Linked DNA regions of Homo sapiens: region 2 is linked to region 1. The links come from fine-mapping of genetic effects on gene expression. A gene starts in region 1. The other region holds a variant in brackets. All regions are shown on one strand. Distances are from middle to middle. Region 1 holds the start of TMEM220-AS1 (TMEM220 antisense RNA 1). Region 2 overlaps TMEM220-AS1 (TMEM220 antisense RNA 1).

Region 1 (10,707 bases):
GAGACTTTGGTAGAGTGAAGAAACACAGTCCATATTCCACTGGACGTGGCATCGTGAAGATGTGAATGGGGGGCTGCAGGGCCACTGTGTGGAGCCCAAGAGTGAAGTTAGCATGACAGATGGTGGAACTGAGAGGTGGAGAGAAGGTAAAGTTCCGAGTCCACCAGTCTGAAGCCAGCACCACCCTTCACCTTTTCAGTAAACTGTACCAATACCTTTTCTTCTCAGCTCATAGCACATTTGAGTTATTTTCTAGCTTGTATCTAAAGGAGCCCTAACTGATCTACCTTAAAGATGCAGACGGAGTTCTAGCTGCCTATACAAGGAGCCCAGGCATCTAGGGAACTAGAATTTTCCCCACTAAGGTGGGACTCATTAGTCTTTATTCTAAGGCCCCTGAGAACATTCGAGCCCCACTAGGAGAAACTGTTTTAAAGAAAGTGAAGAAGAATCTGTCCTCTCACTTCTATAAAACAGAAGACGCTGTTTTATAGCAGATCCTTCTGACGTTTTCCTGAAGATGGGTAAGGATGATTAGAATTAGCCCCTTTTATTATCAGAAATGAGAAGAAAGGCCTAGAGAGCCCCGTTTTACTCCTGGGAGTTGGGCAGATAGACCCTCATTATTATGAGGAAATCTGATTTGCTGTCTCTCCATTTAGAATGCAAGGCTTATACCTGTGACTTCAGGGTTAAGTCCAACAAGCAGGGTCAGTACTGCAGGGATTGTGTACACCACCTGTTAGCAAAAAGGGAGGAAATTACATGAGTTAAGATGTATGCCCAATATATGAGATGTTCAGAGATACAGGAAGTAAAGAAAGATGAGATCAGTGGCTGCTGTGCCCCATGATTTGCCTCTAAGTTTCAATGGTGATTGAGAAAGTGGTAGATTCTCCTTTTGTGGCACTTAGCACGTCTGCCTGCAATTTTATCTACCTTCCTCCTAGACTATAGGCTATTCCAGAAGCTCATTTATCTTTGAGCTCTAACACTGAGCACAGGGTTTTGGTCTTAAGACACACTAACTTTCCAGTCGCTCCCAAGCAACTTTCATGCCCAAATGGCCTTTCCCCACTTGCATAAAAGAAAATGTTCTTTGAAAAGTAGGGCAGGAGCAGCCACGATGCTAGATGGCCCTGCTGGCTTTGGACCCAATGGACCATCCAGGCCAGTACTGCATCTCTGTGAGACCACAGAAAGTTTTCTAATAATGCATACACAATCAGCTGTGCCCAGTAATAAGGTCAGGCTCTTCATTTTGGAACTGCTGATAAGTGTTTGGAAATGAGAAGACTAGCCCTAAAGAGGCCCTATTCCTAAGCCTTGTTCATAACAAGCAGGCTCTAGCCAAACTTACTATTGTGTGTGTTGTTGGCAGGGAATAAGTAGGGAGGGTGGGTTTATAAGAAGGATGGGGACTTTCCAAACAATGTAGCTGTCTAATCACATCAATTTCTGTGCTTATATCAGAAGATGTTAAGGCAGGTGCCAGGGGTCCATGTGGGAGGTAGTGGAGGGCTGAACTGTGAATGAGGGAGGATGTCTATGGGGACATGGGGTCTATTCCTCCTATTATATCGTCTGAGCATGAATGAAAGGTAAAATGTGCAGGTACTATAGAGATAAGCAATTAGACCTCGATTGTTTAATTAATTTTTTGGAGATGGGGGGGGTCTCGCTATGTTGCACAGGCTGGCCTCGAACTCCTGGGCTCAAGTGAGCCTCCTGCCTCAGCCTCTTGAGTAACTGGGACTACGGATGCCTGCCACCATGCCCGACTCAAATTTATTTTGTGTTTTGAGGGGCTCTCCAAGGCAGTGGTAAGGAACAGAGAGATGATAAAGATGACTGAGATTCTGAACAAGAATGACTCAGAGAATGATTCTGCTGATAACAGAAATGGGTGAGTCAGGATAAGTAGATTTTGGAGGGAAAGATGCTAGGTAGGTCCTTGGGCATATCTGAGGAGCAGTGTGACATGCAGGTGAATATACGCAGCAGTCTTTTGGAAATTCACCATTAAGCTGGATGTCTGAGACTTGTCTGCAGGGAAATAATATTTGGAATTCAAGATACGGACCAGGGTGCCAAGGCAAAGGCAGTTTGATTTGATTCAGAGGCATACTGATCTGGATAGTAAATATCAGAATGTGGTTTTACTGCACTAAAAAAACAAAACCTGGATAGAATTTCATGTTATAATTCCAGATACCATCATCCTTGTTGCTCCTCTGTCAATATTATTCTAAAGCTTAAGAGTCATCTCCTTGGTGTACTGTACAGTCTTGTGTATCTATATTGAGAGAAACTGGGCAAAATTCAGATATTTTGGAAGATAAAAGATATTTAGAGCCGGGCGCGGTGACTCATGTCTGTAATCCCAGCACTTTGGGAGGCTGAGGCAGGTGGATCACCTGAGGTCGAGAGTTCAAGACCAGCTTGACCAACATGGAGAAACCCTGTCTCTACTAAAAATACAAAATTAGCTGGGTGTGGTGGCGCATGCCTGTAATCCCAGTTACTTGGGACACTGAGGCAGAAGAATCACTCAAACCTGGGAGGTAGAGGTTGCGGTGAGCCTAGATTGCGCCATTGCACTCCAGCCTGGGCAACAAGAGCAAAACTCCGTCTCAAAAAGAAAAAAAAAAAAAGATATTTAGAAGATGTATGGAACAATGGCCCCCTCCTCCAAATGGTTCAAATCAGAGCCTTGCTTATATGAAGACTGTAGGTTTTACAGGATTTAATACTTTTCTTTGCTTTTTTTTTTTCTTTTTTTTCTTTGCTTTTTTTTTTTTGAGATGGAGTCTCACTCTGTCGCCCAGACTGGAGTGCAGTGGCACGATCTCAGCACACTGCAACTTCTGCCTCCTGGGTTCCAGCGAGTCTCCTGCTTCAGCTTCCCTAGTAGCTGGGGACTACAGGCGCATGCCACCACGCCTGGCTAATTTTTGTATTTTTTGGTGGAGACGGGGTTTCACCATGTTGCTCAGGCTGATCTAGAACTCCTGACCTCAAGTGATCCACCCGCCTTGGCCTCCCAGAGTGCTGAGATTGCAGGCGTGAGCCACCTTGCCCAGCCAGGAGTTAATACTTTCTAGAAATATAAGTCACTGAATTAGCAGAACCTCAGAACTTAAGCCTGTTATTTTCCGGTCAAAGGTTTGCATTGAGTGTCTGGCTAGAAACTCATAAGGAATTGTTCAACTGATCTTGAGAGGCCTACTCTAGGTCCTCAAGAAAGTCCTCAGTTGGGCCATCTAACCAAAGGGAATACTGCAGAAAGACCTGTTTCCAGAAAGTTCGAAATTCACACACACATTACATTAGAACTCTGATCCTGCCTATTAATATTTTAGGAAAAAGCGCTTCCCAAGGGTTTGATTTTTAAGTTTCTCAGAAAATTAAGCAGGGAGGAGGGGTAAAGACATAAAACCGTGTGTTTTGTGCCGTTCCCCAATTCTTCCAAACGGAGGAAAGCCTGGAAGCGGCTCATACTCACCACCCACACCTCTGCATCTGGGTCATTTACCTGGAACGCCAGAATACCAAGGTGTTAGCAGACATCCTGTGCTGTTCCATTCCTTTTAAATTCATTTAAGCACATTTTTTATTAATTTGTTAAGTGCCAGACACTGCAATAGGCATCGAGGGTACAAAATCTGAACAGGATATAGTCCAGATGAGGACGGGTGAAGGGGTTTCTGGCTGACACAACAGATGTTTTTAACAGGCAGCCACACATTTTTGAAAAGCCTTCACGGGAGCTCTGGAGAGGACTCGCCAACCCAGAACGGGTATTTTAAGGGCCCTCCACCCCCACCAGTCTCAAGAAATGAGGGAAATGATTATGAAGGGGGTCCCCAAGCCGACTAAAAAGTTTAATGATGCTATAAAGGGTTTTGGTCGGCTTCGTCTCCTAGGCCCTGAGATATGTTCAGTGTCGTCCGCGGGCCGGACGTTAACGCAGGAGCCAGGGCCGCTTCTTCTGAGGTCCCCTGGGAAGTTCCACGCGCGGAACCAGCCCCTTCCAGGGTGTGAGCCCTGGTATGGGACTCGCTTCCATGAACACATCCGCGTCTCTTAGACGGGGGAGAAAGTGGGGGCTCCCCAAGCAGAAAGCCCAAGTCCCGTCCTCCCCACTAACTGTGCGCCCCTGCGACTCTGCCCGCTAGTCAGTTACACGGCCCGCTAGGCCAGGGGGCGGAGCTGGGAGCCGGGCGGGTCCCCCTCCCACCGCGGCCGCCTGACCTGCACCAAGGCCGCCAGCGCGAAGAAGGCGGCCATGAGTCCGTTGCAGGCCCGCCACAGCGCTGGCGCCATGGCTCGGAGAACACGGCGCGGGGCGGTGAGTCCTGCCACGTGCGGGGCGGTGAGTCCTGCCACGTACGGTCCGCCTTCCTCCTTGCGCGGAGGGACCGAGACCCCCGCCTCGGTTTCGGTGCCTTGGGGACACTGCCGTGGCCGTCGCTCCGCCCGGGGGCGGGGAGCGAAGGGCGTGGGTGTAGCCCCCACTCAGCGACCCATTCAGCCCGCCCCGAACGCCGCGGGGTGTAGGCGGCGCCGTCCTGGTTTCGCGGATGGGAAAGCGAGTCCCTCAGGGAGCGCAGGTCTCGGTGGTGGACGGAAGTCGAATTTGAACCCGTATAGGTTCAACTCCAAACCCTGTTTTCACTAAAGCTACCTTCCTCACAAAAAAAAAAAAAAAGAAGAAAGAAAAAAAAGAAGGAAAAAAGGAAGGAAGGCAGGCGGGAGGGGAGAGAGGAAGAAAGAGAAAGAAAGAAAAAGAAAGAAGGAAAGAAAGGGCTGGGCGCAGTGGCTCACGCCTGTAATCCCAGCACTGTGGGAGGCCGAGGTGGGCGGATCACCTGAGGTCAGGAGTTCGAAAGCAGCCTGGCCAACATGGTGAAACCCCGTATCTCTACTAAAAATACGAAAAAATTAGTCGGGCGTGGTGGCGGGAGCCTGTAATCCCAGCTACTCAGGAGGCTGAGGCAGGAGAATTGCTTGAACCCGGGCGGCGGAGGTTGCAGTGAGCCCAGATTGTGCCACTGCACTCCAGCCTGGGCAACAAAGCGAGACTCCTCAAAAAAAAAAGGATAAAAATTGTTTTTACAAAAATAAGAAAGAGAAAGAAAAAGAGATGTGTGTGTGTGTGTGTGTGTGTGTGTGTGTGTGTGTGTGTGTGTTCTGTTTAGTATTTATGCATTTCCTTCCAAAGCTCAGGAACTTTCAAATCCCTGTAAGCATTATGGTAATTTCTAGAGTGACGACAGTTATATTAACATCTTATACGGCTCACAGCTTTTCGGCAGACAGGCTCATTTATCTTCATGGGCTTTTATTATAAAAGATATTTACATATTATACATATTTACAATTCTCTCCCACCACCAAAACCAACAAAATTTCCAAAATTGCTCATGAATTTCTTATGAACCGAAGACACTGAAATATTCACTGTTCTCCCCTAGTCTGTCTGGTCTTTTTCTGTTTTGTAATTCGCCCTTCTGCTTAGTTCCTCCCCGGGCTCATTTACACATCCATAGGCCTCATTTCTGCTGTTCTAAAGAGTCTTTATCGCTTCAAATCAGGAGCTTCTGTGCCTGTCCTCTTTTCCTTTGAGCTAAATCTCCTAAAACTGTCTAGTTTTTTTTTTCTTTCCCTCTCAGTTTCATTCTTTTCACGAAACACTTATTTCAAGAACGTTGTCTGCTCTGTGCCTGGTGCTGGGACCGTGAAGGTCCCGTGCCGGGACTAGGCAGGGAGCCTGGCGGCTGGCGGGGGTGGGCACCCGTGTTTGCAGAGGTGGGGTGGGGACAGCGGGGACCAGCACTGGGTGGAGTTCCACAGCTAAATCAGCCCTGGGATTGGAAACAAGCGAAGACTATTCTCACTGTGCTTTTCCTTACATAAAAGAAAAAAATGAGAGCGAGAGTGCTAGGGGCTGACTTGCATTCCCCCTGCACCCCCAATTCATATGCTGAAGCCCTAACCCCCAGTGCCTCAAAATGGGACTGCATTTGCAGACAGGGACTTGACAGAGATGATTAAGTTAAAATGAGGTTATAGGGTGGACCCTAATCCAATATGACTAGTGTCCTGATACGAAGAGGGGACAGTTACAGAGGGAAGACCACATGGGCACACAGGGAGAAGACGGCCGTCTGCAAGCCAAGGGGAGAGGCCTCATGAGAAACCAACCCTACCAACATCCTGAATTTGGACTTCCAGCCTCCAGAACTGTGAGAAAATAAATTTCCGTTGTTTAAGCCACCTAGACTGTGGTACTTTGTTGGGACAGTCCTAGCAAATTAATACAGGGAATGATTATAATACCCACAAGGAAACAATGGCATGGAAGTGCTTTTAAGCTCTTGAATGCCATACAACCACCATGAAGTTTTATAGTTTTCACTGTTGTCTGGGACTTTCTTTTTTTATTTCTATTTTTTTGAGACAAAGTCTTGCTCTGTTGCCCAGGCTGGAGTGCAGTGGCACGATCTCAGCTCACTGCAACCTCTGCCTCCTGGGTTCAAGTGATTCTCCTGCCTCAGCCTCCAGAGTAGCTGGGACTACAGGCGCCCACCACCATGCTGGGCTAATTTTTGTATTTTTTTTAGTAGAGATGGAGTTTCACCATATTGGCCAGGCTGGTCTCGAATTCCTGACCTCATGATCTGCCTGCCTCGGCCTCCCACAGTGCTGGGATTACAGGCATGAGCCACTGCACCCGGCTGGGACTTTCAAAGTCACCTTAGTGAGCGTCTGTTGGTTTTGCCTTTGCAGGGTTCAGTCCCCTTTCTTCGAGGATCAGTGTCTTTAGTACTGTGGATTACCACATGCACTATGGGTGGATGTGGACTACAGGGTTGACCGTGCTCCCCTCCTTTTGGGGATAGGCAGGTGACTTTGGCCTGCCAGCTGACATATCCCATTCTGTTGACCACTGTGATTGGGTCTAGGATGGGTATAGGATCCAAATTGCCCAGATTCAATCCTAGGACCTATATGGGACTTAGGTTGTCAGTAAAGGACAACCTCAGTTGAACTGAATTTTGGATCATCAATGATGTGTTCCAAATATTTGCTAAATCTGGCAATCCTACTCACACTATTAAAGAGAAGCTTTCTTTGTGATGAATGTGTAGAGCTGGTAGAATGTGAGCCTGGAGCTGTCAGGAGAAAGCCTCACAGGGAGAAAGGCTTTCTGCAGGTGAAGTTTAAAAGCCTGGATCCAGCCATGCCTGAAAATGGAAGAATCTCACAACCAACAGAGTCTCTTCTTTACATAAGCCCGTGTGAATTGGGTTTTTGTAATTTGCAACAAAGAATGATGACTTGTAAAGTCATGATTCAATAGTTAAGGCAATGTGTGAAATCCTTGCAAACCTCCTGCTATAGGTTTGTCCAGGCTTTGCAGAGACACGGAAGAGAAGGCTTAGTCTGAAAAGTAATGAAAAATACGTTTAAATGAATCCAATATCTCAGACAGCTCTGCTTGAAGAGTAATTTCATTTCCCTTTTTAGCAAAAGGCTATGATACAATACTGCAGAGAAGATGAGGTTTTAAAGGCAGTAGGGTCTTGTCAAAGCTGGCTTCCCTCTGCAGAAAGGGCAGCACAAAGGACCCTTCATCCTGCTGGACACTCCCTGGCTGCCCAGTCAGTGACAGCATCATAAAAGCAATTGAGCCACAGGAGTGAGGTGAGCTGGACTCACTTCCCCGCTGGAATCCGAGAATGGCTGGACATCTGCCCTCTGAGAACTTGGAAATAGAGGTGCTTGCTTATTCCCTGAGAGTAGGGTTGTTAATCCAATGCTAAGAGTTGGAGCAGAGACAGGAAGCTCATATAAAGACACAAATGGCCTCCCAGGGTCACAGGATTGAGAGAGAGAAAATGAATGCATGAAAGTACGTAAAAGAAGAATGTCAGCAAAGGAGGATTGATGGGCTTGGAGGCTTCAAGTTAGGTCATCTGAAAGGCAAGCGTAGACCAAGTCCATCCTCACACAGACTGGAGAGAGTGCTTTGCTCCACCAGATGTGGACACTCACATTTCTTGGTCGGGCCAACCTCTTTGGGGCTTATGTGGGTTGAAAATTTCACAGGCTCAACCCTCCCCTTGCTGTGATTCCAGAAGGCCAATTTTGGAGACTTTGGCTTCCCACCTAGCTGGCCTACAGAGTGGAGAACATGTGGCTCTCTGAGCCAGGTGCATTTCAAAGTGTGTATCAATGGAATGCCCATGCCATTCTCTTTTATAGACTTGTTTTCCTTTTAGTAGTCTCCATTATCTGTCCTTCCAGGTGTGGTCAGCTACTCCGGAATGTGGCAGGGGTGGAGGCCGGACAAAGTCTGAAACAGGGTCATCACCAGTGAGTGGCTCCTGCCTGTGCTCTATGTCCAGAGTGTGTGTGTGCTGGTGATGCTCCCAAGGTGACATATTGGGAACAAGGATTACAAGGATCAGAAACTGCTGCCCATGCCGTCTACCTCCCTCTGTCCAGCACACCAGATCAGCAAAGGCCAAGCCATGCTGTCTCCAGGCTCTGCTGATTCCATGTGAATGAAGTGTTGGGGCAGGAAAGGGTTGGAACAGAACAGTGGAGGAATTCTACTAGGAGCAGTGGACGAATTCTACTAGGAGCTAGACAGCCTTCTGCTAAAATATTTGAAATCAGAAAAGCACCTCGCCACGGCAAGGATTGATTTGCTTCTACAAAACCCATCTAGTCTCTATGAAGGACTTGGGTTTCTACTGTTAGCAAAATATAGCCCGTGTTATGAAAGTCTTAAAGCTTACGCATATTGATGGACAATGAAAAACACTTGGCTTGAATAATGTTCCTCAAATATCCCCTTATGCCACTGAAAGGAGAATATGGTTAAATGAACCCTCTGCGTGTATTTATATCCACCCTATTCATTGGCATGAAACACTCAGTGAGCCATTTATTCTATCCATTTATTCTGTCCATTTATTCAAGACTTCCTACGTGTCAGGCACTATGCTAATAACTGAGGATGTGACTGTGACCTCACGGGACACGGTGTTTGCCCTTGTAGAGCTTACAGGCCAAACAATAATTACACGAATAGGTAGGGGTTCCAGCCAACAATGGTGGTGATGCTGAGAAGGAGAAGTGAGGCTGCTATGGGAATGTGTGAAACCAGAGAATCTGACCTCTTCCCAGGGGTTCCAGAAACCTCCTGAGGAGGTGATTTTCAGGTGTGCCCTGAAAGATGAATGGGTGAGGACAGGTGAAGACTTTATGGACCAGTGCTTAAAGCCGAGAGAGAAGTGCTTATGAGAAGACCAAATCCTGAAGGTCTTCAGGGCCTGGCAAAGAATGAGAGTACAAGTAGACATAGATGAGGCTAGCACAATGCAGGTAAAGAGTTTGGTTTTATCCTGGCTGGGTGTGGTGGCTCACGCTTGTAATCCCAGCACTTTGGGAGGCCGAGGCAGATGGATCATCTGAGGTCAGGAGTTCAAGACCAGCCTGACCAACATGGTGAAACCCCATCTCTACTAAAAATACAAAATTAGCCAGGCACAGTGGCGCATGCCTATAGTCCCAGCTACTCAGGAGGCTGAGGCAGGAGAATCACCTGAACCCAAGAGGCGGAGGTTGCAGTGAGCCGAGATCACGCCATTGCACTCCAGCCTGGGCAACAGAGTGAAACTCCATCTCAAAAAAAAAAAAAAAAGTTTGGTTTTATCCCAAGTGTGCTGAAGAGCCCCTGGAGCACTGAGTGGGGAGAGCATGATGGGAGGTGTGCTTGGGCTGCCCCGTGGAGGAGGATGCACTGGGGAGAGCCCAGAGAAGAAGCAGAGACTGGCCATGAGGTGCTTGCAGTAGGCCAGGAGAGAGATGATGCTGGCCAGGGCTAACAGGGTAGCAGTGGCCATGGAGGGAAAGAAGCACGAATGAGTGACATTGGGGAGATAAAGTCAATCAGACTGTATGCAGGGAATAAAAAAATGCCTCCACTCCTTATGACAAAGTTAAGTTTTCAAGGCTGGGTGTGGTGGCTCACACCTGTAATCCCAGTACTTTGGGTGGTCAAAGTGAGAGGATCACTTGAGCCCAGGAGTTCAAGACATCCTGGGCAACAGAGCAAGACTCCATCTCTACAAAAAAATTTTAAAAAATTAGCTGGGTATGGTGGCATGTGCCTGTGGTCATAGCTTCTTGGGAGGCTGAGGCGGGAGGATTGCTTGAGTCCAGGAGCTCGAGGATGCAGTGAGCTGTGATTTGCACCACTGCATTCCAGCCTGGGTGACAGAGCAAGACCCCATTGAAAAAAAAAAAGGACTTTCAAAATCATACATGGCAGATTACACAATAAATAAAAATAATTGATAGAAAGTACTTAAAAAAACAAGTTTTTGATTCTGCATGGCTGAGAACAGACTGCAGAAGGTAGGTGAGCTCTTCAAGGGAATGGCAAAGCACTTCCCAGTGTTGCCTTTGCTCCGTCCAGAATCGCTGAGTGTCAGCCTGTGCTAGCACCTACCTGGCCTCAATTAGAGTCGCCTGATCTCCTTAGGTGGGACTGTGGATGCTCTTCTCCTTATACTTTCACTTTTTTTTTCCCTTTATGGAAATTCTTAGTTTTTTTTGGGTGTGTGGGTTTTTTTGTTTTTTTTTTTTTGAGACAGAGTTTCGCTCTTGCTGTCCAGCCTGGAATGCAAT
Region 2 (10,707 bases), 22 kb after region 1:
TGGATCAAGTCTCATTTGAAGCTAGAACTATTCCTGAACATCCAAGATTTTTTAGCTATTACATTCCTTTAGCCAGTTTTAATTGGGTTGCTTGCAACCCAAAGGATGCTACCTGACAGGCCATCTAGCCAGCTATCATTTGTGGGGTGACTGCCATGTGCTAGGTACTCTGCCAACAAGCAGTAGTGAGCCTGGCTGGGTGCTGCCCACGCTGAGGCTACGTCTCATAGGAAAAGGCAGATAATTACGTAAGCAATTAAAACAAAGTGGTCACTCCATTGTCCCAAAGCAGAGAGTGGATGATTGGATTGGCTCCATTGTTTTAAAGCCAGTCTTTACATATGTTTATGTGTGCCTATGCACAGGAAAACATTAGAGATGTGATCTGTTGGCTTATTTTACACTTTGCTTTATTTTTGCAGTGAACCTTAATTACTCTAAAATCAAGGGGGGAAATGCTATTAGAATCAAAATGATAAGTATGGTAAGCATTGTGCTGGGAGAGGTACTGGATGCTGTTAGGAGCACTTAGCAGGGACTGGCTTTAGGCAGCTGCATAACTGCAGGGAGCAGTAGAGAAGGTTCAGTGAGGCTCACTTGTGCATAGAGACCTTCCTGCCTCTGCCTGTATAGGCCCACCCTTAGCGAGGCCCTGGGGGTATCGGCTGGTCGGAGAAGCCAGGCACAGGAGCCTGGAGTCCCTGGCCTCTTCTCCAGACTGTCTGGGGCGTTGGCTCCCTGATCTGGCCGGGAGCATTTCCCCAGCTCATTCCTCTGCCTTACGGTGGAGAGCTGGTTACTGGAAGCACAAAGCCCTTTCCTTTCAGGGCTCCAGAAGCTGAACATTAAGAAACCATTGCAAATACAGTAATTGCTCAGAATGAGCATTAATGTCCTATTAAATAGAGGTGGCTGCTGTGGCTGGAATATCTAATTCAGCAGCCATTTCCTGAGAACCATGTTAATGTGATTTGAGCTAATTACCTCCTCTCTGCCTAAGCTCAGTCCAGAAATTACTGAGGCCTCTGCCCTTCAGTCTTTGGAGAAGCACAAGAATCCCTCACTCCCTTTCTCGGCAGGGGAGTTCCGGAGGTTCAGGCAGCAAGCAATCATCAATCAATCAGCGATTGGCCACTCTGTGCTTGACATTGGACTAGGTGCTGAGGAGGTGGGGACACTCATTAAATCTCATTCTGTGCCTTTGAGGCATTTGACATTTGTCTAAGAAGTCAGGACAACCGTGGCTAAGAAATGAAAGAATTGGAGAACATACAGGACAGCATGGACTCTTCATTAGTTCAGTCATTCTTGGTGGTAGAGGGCACACTGGTGGATAACACAGCTCTGGTCCCACAGTCATGGGAGCTTATGTTCTAATGAGACAGACATTGACTAAGCAATTGTGCAGTAGTTGACTAACCACAACAGTAATATGCGTGATGGATTATTACAGGATGTCATGAGAGAATAAAATGAGGAGTGGGGTGGAAACTGACCTAGCCTTTGGGGAAGGGGGTCTGAAAAAGCCTCCAAGGGAGTAGGAGACCCGAGAGTGAGCAGGAATGAGCAGAGCACAGGAGCGAAGGGGATCTCTTCACCTCCGCACTGTTTGCGGAGTATGGGGGCTGGGCACAGAGAGGAAAGGGCAGGGTGGTGCCCGGTAAAGCAGTACTGTCTCTCTGTCTTGCTGCCTGCAGCAGCATGTCGTGGTGCCCAGTGCCAGGACCTTGGAGTTGGGAGACCTGGGTTCCAGTGGCACCCTAGCTTTGTGTCCCCAGAGGAGTTACTCATGTGTTATTGAGAACACACGGTACACACCTGGGTTTCACCTCCTCAGGGGAAAACACTGGAGATTACTAACTTCCAGTGCGAAAATCCCATGATTATGTAAATTCTAGGTTCTGAGTCCTGCAGCAATGAGATGGAACCATCCTGCAAGGGTCTGTAGGGGTTGGAAGGGGAAAGAGTGTAGGGGGCCAAGTCAGACTATGGGGTCTGAGGGTATAAAGGGTGGTTCCATTCTGTGACCAGGAGCGAGTTCTCTTCCTTTCTGGGCCCTGCAGCTGCACTGTCGCAAGCCCTACAATTGGGCTTCTCTTGCGCAGCCCTCACTCCTGCAGCTGAGTTCTAGTCCAGCTAGAATTCCAGTCATGGAGACTACTTGAGTTCTTTTCCTGGGGCCTCTTGATCCCCTTGTAAATCAGAGACTGAGGACAGAGACTTGATGGCAAAGGGAAGGGGGTGAGCAGAGGATCTGGACACAATTCCACCTCTGGCCTTATTAGTAAGGTGACTGGTAGATGCTGTGAAATGCACCCAGACCCCTCTTCAGGAATGAAGGACTTACTTGCCCAGCTTCTGGGAGTGCTGCCAGAGGTGGCTTTCAGCCGTCCGCCCTGGATCACCTCACCTGAAAAAAATAGCCCTTCCCAAAGTCATGCCTCTTTCCAGGGGCAGCCTGTGATCAGGGACTGATCCAAGCCAGGGTATAAAGGCCTGGTTCCCTCTACACAACTTGAGATAACTCCAAAGGGTCAGCTCAGCTCCAAAATTCCTCTCAGGGTTGACTGAAATCTTCATTAAGACGGCATCGCAGCTCCATGTTTCCCATCTCTTCCTGGCAGTCCTGCACGCAGAGCTTTGTCTCAGGTTCTGCTTCTCTGGGAACCCAACCTGCAACCGTGCTCTTCGACAAGCCCCTTCAGCGTTTTGTGCCTCAGTTTCCTCATTTGTAAAATCGGGATAATAATGACCACACTTCAGGCTGTTGAAAGGATTTAAAAAACAAATTCCTGGTGGTGGGATCATTTATAAGGGTATTTGCGTTTCGTCATGACTTGGATAATCTTACCAGCATTGAGTGGCAATCAAAAATGTTTCCAGATGTGGCCAAATGACCCTGGGGAGGAGGGGGAGTCAGAATCACCCCTGGTGGAGAATTAGTGGTTTTAAAAAGGGAGAGGGGGGTGGGCATGGTGGCTCACTTCTGCAGTCCTAACACTTTGTGAGGCAGAGGCAGGAGGATCACTTGAGGCCAGGAGTTCAAGACCACCAGCCTGGGCAACACAGTGAGACCCCATCTCTACAAAAAATTAAAAAATTAGCTGGACGTGGTGGCTCATGCCTATAGTCCCAGCTACTAGGGAGGCCGAGGTGGGAGGACTGCTTGAACCCAGGAGGTTAAGGCTACAGTGAATCATGATCATCATGCCACTGCACTGTGGCCTGGGCAACAGAGCAAGACTCTGTCTCTTAAAAAAATATTTAAAGAAGAAAAGGGAGCGGGAAAAATCATTTATCCATTTCCCTTGGTGATTACACATCAAGGCACAAACACCACTCAACACTTCCCAGCCTCCCTGAGGCTGCGGCCTGGCCATCACTTTCTTCATTAGACAGGACTGAGCACCCACTGCTCTCTCTCCCTGGAGGGGAGGGACTGGCAGCCATTGTTTCTTTCTAGGAGAACCTGGGCTTCTAATTTCATCCCGTGCGTAAACTGTATTGGGCACTGGACAAAGCTCTCAGTTAGTACAAGGGATGGTCCAGGTGAGGGCTCATTTGATCCCATCACAAATCCCCGCAGGGTCCTCTCAGCAGCAGGGAGCAGGACTGGGCCTCTGACCCCCGGTGACTGTAGGTCCTCCTTTCCTGGATGCTCAGTGAGGTGGTTCCCTGGCAACAGCACAGCATCCTAGCAGCCCCAGGGCACATGAACCACAGACAGAGGGCAGATGAGACAAAAGAGTCTTCCGTGCTCACTGTGGGCATTGTGTCAGTGTTTACCCTGGGAAGCTCCTGGATGTGCTGTTGACCCTTCTCTCTGGAGAACTTTAGCCTGGCCCCTGCCCACCCCACTGGAGCCATTACTCAGAGCTCTGTGCTACAAAGGCCCAGAGAAAGGACCCTGGGGAGGAGGCTACATGGAGGCTACATTCATTCATTCATTCACTGATTCATTCAATAGGTATACTTTGTATCTCTACTGTGTCTATCTATTGAGCCCATCTCTGGGAATATTAAGTTGGTTGAGATATGGGTTGAATATGCTGTGCAACAGTGGGGAATTTAAAACACAGTCCTTGACCTCCAGTAGTTTTTGTTTTGTTTTGTTTTGAGACAGAGTCTCACTCAGTTGCCCAGGCTGGAGTGCAGTGGTACAATCTCGGCTCACTGCAACCTCCACCTCCCAGGTTCAAGCGATTCTCCTGCCTCAGCCTCCAGAGTAGCTGGGATTACGGTCGCCCGCCACCAAGCCCAGCTAATTTTTGTATTTTTATAGAGATGGC[G/A]TTTCACCATGTTGGCCAGGCTGGTCTTGAACTCCTGACCTCAGGTGATCCGCCCACGTCAGCCTCCCAAAGTGTTGGGATTACAGGCGTGAGCCACTGCGCCTGGCCTCCAGTAGTTTTTTATTGGGTTGGGAGAGCCATCCACTCCCAGGAAAGCTAAGGACTAATATGAATTTTCTGTAAAGCAGAAGCACGCAGGAGAAATTTCCAGGCACCTGTGATGGAGGAGGATGAAGCAAGGGAGGAGCAGCCTTTATTGTGTGCTCAGGTGTGGGAGACCCTTAGCACCTGTACAGCTTGGGAAGAAGAATGTGGAGCTCTGAGAAGTGAAGAACATGCCCCAAATATATTGCCTGTGCTGAAGACAAAGAGGGTTTGATGACACGAGGATTTGCCCCCCTTTTCTGTTAGGACCACCTGGCTGCCTCCAAACACTCTCTGACTTGCCTCCTAGTTGCTCGCCTCACGTTTTCTCCTCCTCCGCTTTTCTAGAAAATATGCTCTCTTAAGAACCAAGTCTGAAGCGAAGGCTGTACTTGAACTTCGGGCTGGCTGGACCACTCAGACCGATTGAGGTGCTCTATCTCCCTAACACCTGCACTCTAAGAACCACATAAAGGACTCGCTGGTTTGCGGCTGGGTGGGGTTGGGTGGGGCTGGGTGAGGGCGTGTGAGTCAGCTTGGATAAAGAAAATCATCCAGGAGGGATGTGTTTTGGGACACTGACTACTGACCTCTTTTCTGACCCTCTTTGTTCCAGGCAACTGTGCAGATCCCGGCACTTTGGCTGTTTCCAGGAGTCTGTGCTTTTTTCCCCAAGGGGCTGGCCAGGAAGGGCTGCCTGGGAGACAGTGGCTGCTCACTGTTGCCATTTTTCTCTCCCATGATCTCAAAGCCACCCATTAAGGGAACCATCAGCTACTTGGGCAATTTCCTTCTGTGTAGAGAGCGAATGACATTTGCACTATTTGCTCATCTAACGCACCCGACATGTCCTCCTTTCTGGTTAATTTGGGTCCCAACTAGGGAGTCCTGTACTGACATCATTCAGGCAGTTGGGGGCTCTGGCCACTGTATATCTGGCAGCACAGGTCCCCCACTCTCTTGGATAACTGCCCAGCCCAGTTATCCATTGAGGGGATGCTTCAAATGGCTGGGAAAGTTCACAGAAAAAGGTGTGAGCCGTGGTGAAGCTTGTCTTTATTAACCAGTGAGCAAAAAACATTTTAATTAAATTGCAAAGATACACATCTTTGGTTCCCTCTTGAAATCTAGCAGAAAGTATGCCAGGGAAGAAAATTTGCACAGGGAGAATATTCAAATCAGAAGTATTTTCCAGTTTAAAATATCAGCAGGGGCAGGCAAGGGCTGGGGAGAAGAACAGGAGTGGTTATCTTGGAGTCCCCTGTGAAGTCCCTCACGAAGAAAAGACTTATACAAGAATTCTTGGCTGGGCACGGTGGCTCACGCCTGTAATCTCAGCACTTTGGGAGGCCAGGGCGGGCGGATCATGAGGTCAGGAGATCGAGACCATCCTGGCTAACATGGTGAAACCCCGTCTCTACTAAACAAAATACAAAAAATTAGCTGGGCGTGATGGCGGGCGCCTGTAGTCCCAGCTACTTGGGAGGCTGAGGCAGGAGAATGGCATGAACCCAGGAGGCGGAGCTTGCAGTGTCCGAGATCAGGCCACTGCACTCCAGCCTGGGTGATAGAGTGAGACTCCGTCTCAAAGAAAGAAAGAAAAAAAAGAATTCTCACCTCCCAGGGTTATGTCTATTTGAAACTTAGAATAATTGCCTCCGTTGGCTGATTTTCCTCTGAAGGAGAAATTATAAAATTTAAGATGGGGAAGGGAGGTGTGGAGAAGGATGCTGGAGATATTCTGGCTACTGCAGTAACTGGATGGCTATCTGCTTTTCTGCAGGCCCCTAAGGTAAAAGCCTTGCTCCAAGTCCCCTTCTGACTTCTAGTCACTTCCGTGCTGCCAGCAGAGGGCGTGGGATTCTTCCTGAGGAGCCTGAGTCTCAGCTTTGCCAGGTCCTTGCTGTGTGACCTTGGGTAAGTTACATAACCTCTCTGAGCCTCAGTTTTCTCAGCCATAAAACAGAGACAATAGTCAGCCCTACATTTCAGGATTGTTGTGAGAAGTAAATAAGACTATGCAAAAGGCCTTTCTTCCCCTTCCTCCTCTTCCATCTGGGGGCCCTGCTCTTCCTTTCTCAAGCTGTCCCTCCTCCCAGCATCTTTCTGAGTCTGCGTGCACTCAGAAAGCTGGCTCCTCTTCCTCATCTACCGGTACCCTTTGGAACACCTGGGGCTACCCTTGCTCACATTGTTATCTCATTACATTCTCATCTCTTACACTGGAAAACTGACCACCTGTATAATCCACATCTGAGCCCAGAGCCAGCACATGGGAGGCCTCTTAATGTTGAATGAAATCGCTTTGCAAACCGCAAAGAGCTTCCAACAGCCCCTTAGCTGTCATCATCCAGGGAAGCATTTGTCATAGCAAAACAACCTACCTCACCAAAAAGTGAAGCGTGCCTGGGTCCAGCCTGTAGAGAGAGGCTAGGGGGAAGGAGTGGATGCAGAGCCCATTTTGTGCCACTGGGGAGAGGAGTCCCGAAAGGCCACTGACTGGGAAGCCCAGGCCTCTGCAAGCCCATGCTGTTCACTCCTTGGTTGGATATAAGTCAAGATCCTCTGAGCCTTCCTCCATCATCTTTCTGCTGTCCAACACCGCAGTATCACTAAGCCCCTCCCCTAGCTGGATAAAGGAGCTCTGCTGGGCTCTTCCTGCCTGCCGCGGGATCTTTGTGTCTCGCGTCTCTGAGATCTTGGTCCCATCACCGACTTGCTCTGTGATTTTGCAAAGGTCACTTAGTTTCTCTGAGCCTTGATTTTCTTATTTATAAAATGGAGTGCCTCAGGAATCAAAGGAAATAGAGCGAATGTCTCCCCTCTTCCCTCAGCTACAGCTCAGGCGCTCTCCACCCTGGCAGCCCAGAAGAATTACCTGGGAGCTTTAAGAACATCTGAATGCCGCCCTGCGGGTCTCCCAGTCGCCTTTCTGACTCAGCGGATCTTCAATGAGACTAGGGCATTGGCTACTTTTTTTAAAGCTCCCCAGGTGATTCATGGGTTGAGTAGGGGCTGAGAACCATTGTGGGCTGCTTGGCCAACAACAGGGCCCCTCTGTCCTGGCTGTTGTCACTCTGTCTGGCTTCACTCCACCTCCCATCCCGCAACCCTGCCTCTTAGAGGCTGCTGAACATCTTACAGTTTCCCAGAGGGCTCTCTCCCTCTCTCCCTCACTCTCCCTCCCTCCCTCTCTCCCTTTTTCTCTCTCCCTCTCTACTCCCTCCTCCTCTGTCTCTTTCTCTTCCTTCTTCTCTTTTTCCCCCTCTTCCTTTTCCTCCCTCTCTCCCTTTCTCTCTTCCTCTCTATCCTCTCCCCCTTCCTCTCTTTCTCCCTCCCTTTCTCTTCTTCTCGCCCTCTCTTTTTTCCTTTCTCCCTCCCTCTCTCTTACCCTTCCTCCTCCTCTCTCTCCCTCTCCCCTTTCTCCCTCTCTTTCTCCCTTTCTCTCTCTTCCTCTCTACCCTTTTTCTTTCTCTCTCTCTCCCTTTCTCTGTCCCCCTCCCCCCTCCTTTTCCTTTCTTCCCCCTCTTTCCCTTCCTCTCTCTCTCTCTCTCTCTCTCTGTCTCTCTCTCGGGTTTCCCTGCCTTTCTATATCACCTTGTTCTCCCTACCCAGACTGCTGTCCTCTAGGCTTAGCTGAGCCCTTCTCATCCTGGGAGCCTCGCCTGGGCCCTGTGTCTGGGGTTGGCCCCCTCCATGCTCCTCCACCCCACCTGCTGCCACCTTGAGTCTTCTCTCTGTGTCTCCTAATAGTCAATGTCTCACTGCCCTGGAGGCCCCTCTGTGGCTTAGAACCTGGCATATGGTGGGAGTTCTGAGTTTGCCAGTCCTGCCTTCCTTCCCTCCCTCTCCTTCGGCCCCCTTGGTCTCTTTCAGCAGTGTTCTCAAGCTTTAGCAAGCATCAGAGTCACCTGGAAGGCCTGTCAAAACACACATTGCTGGGCCCCACCCCCAGGGTTTCCTATTCAGTGCAGGGGAGGAGTAGATGATTTGCAATTCTAACAATTTCCCAGATGATAATGACCCACTCTGAGAGCCACTGCTTTAGAGAAGGGTGTTTCAATCCAGGCACTATGGACATGCTGGGCTGGATAATTCCTTGTTGTGTGCCCTGTCCTGTGCACTGTAGGATGTTGGGCAGCATCCCTGGCCTCTACCCACCAGATGCCAGTAGTAACCCTCCTCCACATGCCACAACCAGAAATGTCTCCAAACCTGGCCAGATATCTCCTATGGGGGCAAAATCACCCCAACATTGAGAACCACTGCTCTAGAACTCTTTGTCCTGGGGGTGGAGTGGACTCTGTGGGGACTTGGCAAGGCCAAGTTCTAAATTACTGTCCTCAAGCCAAATCAGGCCAGCCACCTGTTTTTATAAATAAGGGCTCACTGGAACACACAGCCCCACCCATTCATTGTCATCTTCTTTCTGCTGCTTTCTTGCTACAAGGGTGGAACTGAGTAGTTGCGACAGAGGCCATCTGGTCTGCAAAGTCTGAGACATTCACTATCTGGCTCTTTTCAGAAAAAGTCTACCGACCCCTTTCAGACCCTGAAGGGGTCTGGTAGAATGTGATGTGGTAGAAGGACCGGGGCAGGTGGGCCCACCCACTCTCTTCCATCCAAAGGAAGGGTAGTCCTCCAGGCTGAAGCTAAATAAAGGGCGTCTTCTATCCCCAGGAGTTTCCTATGCTGGGAAGGGGGTTGGGGGTGGCATTGGGCCCGGCAGCCTGGGGCCAGGCTGGGATTTTCCACCACTGCCTGGTTCACGGCCATGTGGTCACCTCCCTTTGACCAGACCTGGGCTCTGCTTATCTACAGGGTAAACAAGAGCTCCGCACACAGCCCCAGGGAGAAGGAACCAAGCGGGTAGATTCTGAGGCAGAGTGGAAGTGTACATAGCATTTGGGTCTGATATGTCAAGGGGAGGACTGGGGAAGAGGGACGTTGGGCTGGTTCTTTCATTCATTTGACATTTATGGAGCATCTGCTGAACCCAAGGCACCATGTAAAAGGCACAGTGAACAAGATACTGTTCTTGTCCTCTTGGATTTTCAGAGTTTGGGGAAAACAAGCAAGGAAGGGATAATTACCCTTGGGGAAGCACAGGGGTGACACAGAGGAGGCTCTAACCCAGTCCTGCTGGTGTGGTTTGAGGGGGCTTTGAAGACAAGACATTCAATACCTATTTTTGAGTCACAAGTCTACTCTGTTCCCCTTCCTTTAATGGGACAGCTTTTAAGCCCCCCAGATTCCTTCCTAAGTGCTCCAGCTATGTATCAGCTCAAGTCTGTGCCCTGATTGTCATACCTCCTTGAGCTAAGCCTCTGCCCCCATCAAGGAGGCCTCAGCTGGCCCCACCCCGTTTCTCTTGTCCAGAGCACGAGGAATGCATGGCAGGCTGTTTGCAGCAACTGAGTAGTCTAGCAAGGGTGCCTCTTCTGGGACATTGCTCATGCCTGTCCCCTCTGCCTGGTTACTGTCCTCCTCCTATCTCCTGGCCCATCTCAATCCAAATCCCACCTTGACTTTTTCACATCCACACAAATGCTCCCTCATCTGTGAAGGGGGATCATAGATTGCAGTTGACTGTGGATGACAGTTGTGCGTGTGCGTGGTTTCAGAACCATGGAGTATTCATCTCTGTACTCTTTATAGCCAAATTTAGCACCACGGTGCTTCCCTGGAAGTTCACAGTAAGGATTTTCTGAGTGAGCCAATGAATAAACGGCATCCTAAGGACTTAAGGGAGATGGCAATGTTGTCTGGTTCTAATTCTTTACACCTGTCCAGCACCAAATAGTTGCAGGGCACTTCGAAACTTGAGCTCGTTAATCACCACCCAGAGGCACAAGGTCAACAGAGTGGGCGTTGCTTACCAATCAGGGTTTTTCACTAGTCCGGGCAATAAGCAAATGGCTTTTTTTGTTTTTGTTTGTTTTGTTTTGTTTTTTTGGTGGTAAGAAAATGGCTTTGGCTAAATTAATCAAAAAGGACAGGTATGGGAAGGGCACAGAGAAGCTCACAGATTTGTGACCCTGACCAATGAAAGAAATTTATTTTACATTGCAACTGATTTTACAGTACACTTATTTATATAACAGAAGTAACATTTAGAAGAATCAGTACTGACCTGAGGCCAAGTGTGGTGGCTTATGCCTGTAATCTAAGCACTTTGGGAGGCTGAGGCGGGAGGATTGCTTGAGCCCAGGAGTTCAAGACCAGCCTGGGCAATATGGTGAAACCCCATCTCTACAAAAAATACAAAAATTAG

The links. PIP is the estimated chance that this variant, and not a neighbour inherited with it, causes the effect.
Region 2: its variant is fine-mapped to the expression of TMEM220-AS1 in whole blood (TOPMed, PIP above 0.99).

What each region holds. Positions count from the first base shown.
Region 1 is chr17:10,725,526-10,736,232 of GRCh38, forward strand. It overlaps TMEM220-AS1 (TMEM220 antisense RNA 1), which reads left to right and starts at 4,252. Exons shown (of 4, transcript NR_073458.1): 1 at 4,252-4,375. It overlaps TMEM220 (transmembrane protein 220), which reads right to left and starts at 4,498. Exons shown (of 6, transcript NM_001004313.3): 1 at 4,255-4,498; 2 at 3,506-3,535; 3 at 679-739. The coding sequence starts at 4,326. RefSeq lists enhancers at 3,950-4,536, 4,537-5,123 and silencers at 4,137-4,306, 4,317-4,556, 8,520-8,705.
Region 2 is chr17:10,748,013-10,758,719 of GRCh38, forward strand. All of the region lies in intron 1 of TMEM220-AS1 (TMEM220 antisense RNA 1), which reads left to right. Among named protein-coding and RNA genes, the nearest start is that of TMEM220, 23 kb to the left of the region's middle. RefSeq lists enhancers at 646-1,195, 6,160-6,454. The variant G/A (reference allele first, on the strand shown) is at 4,290.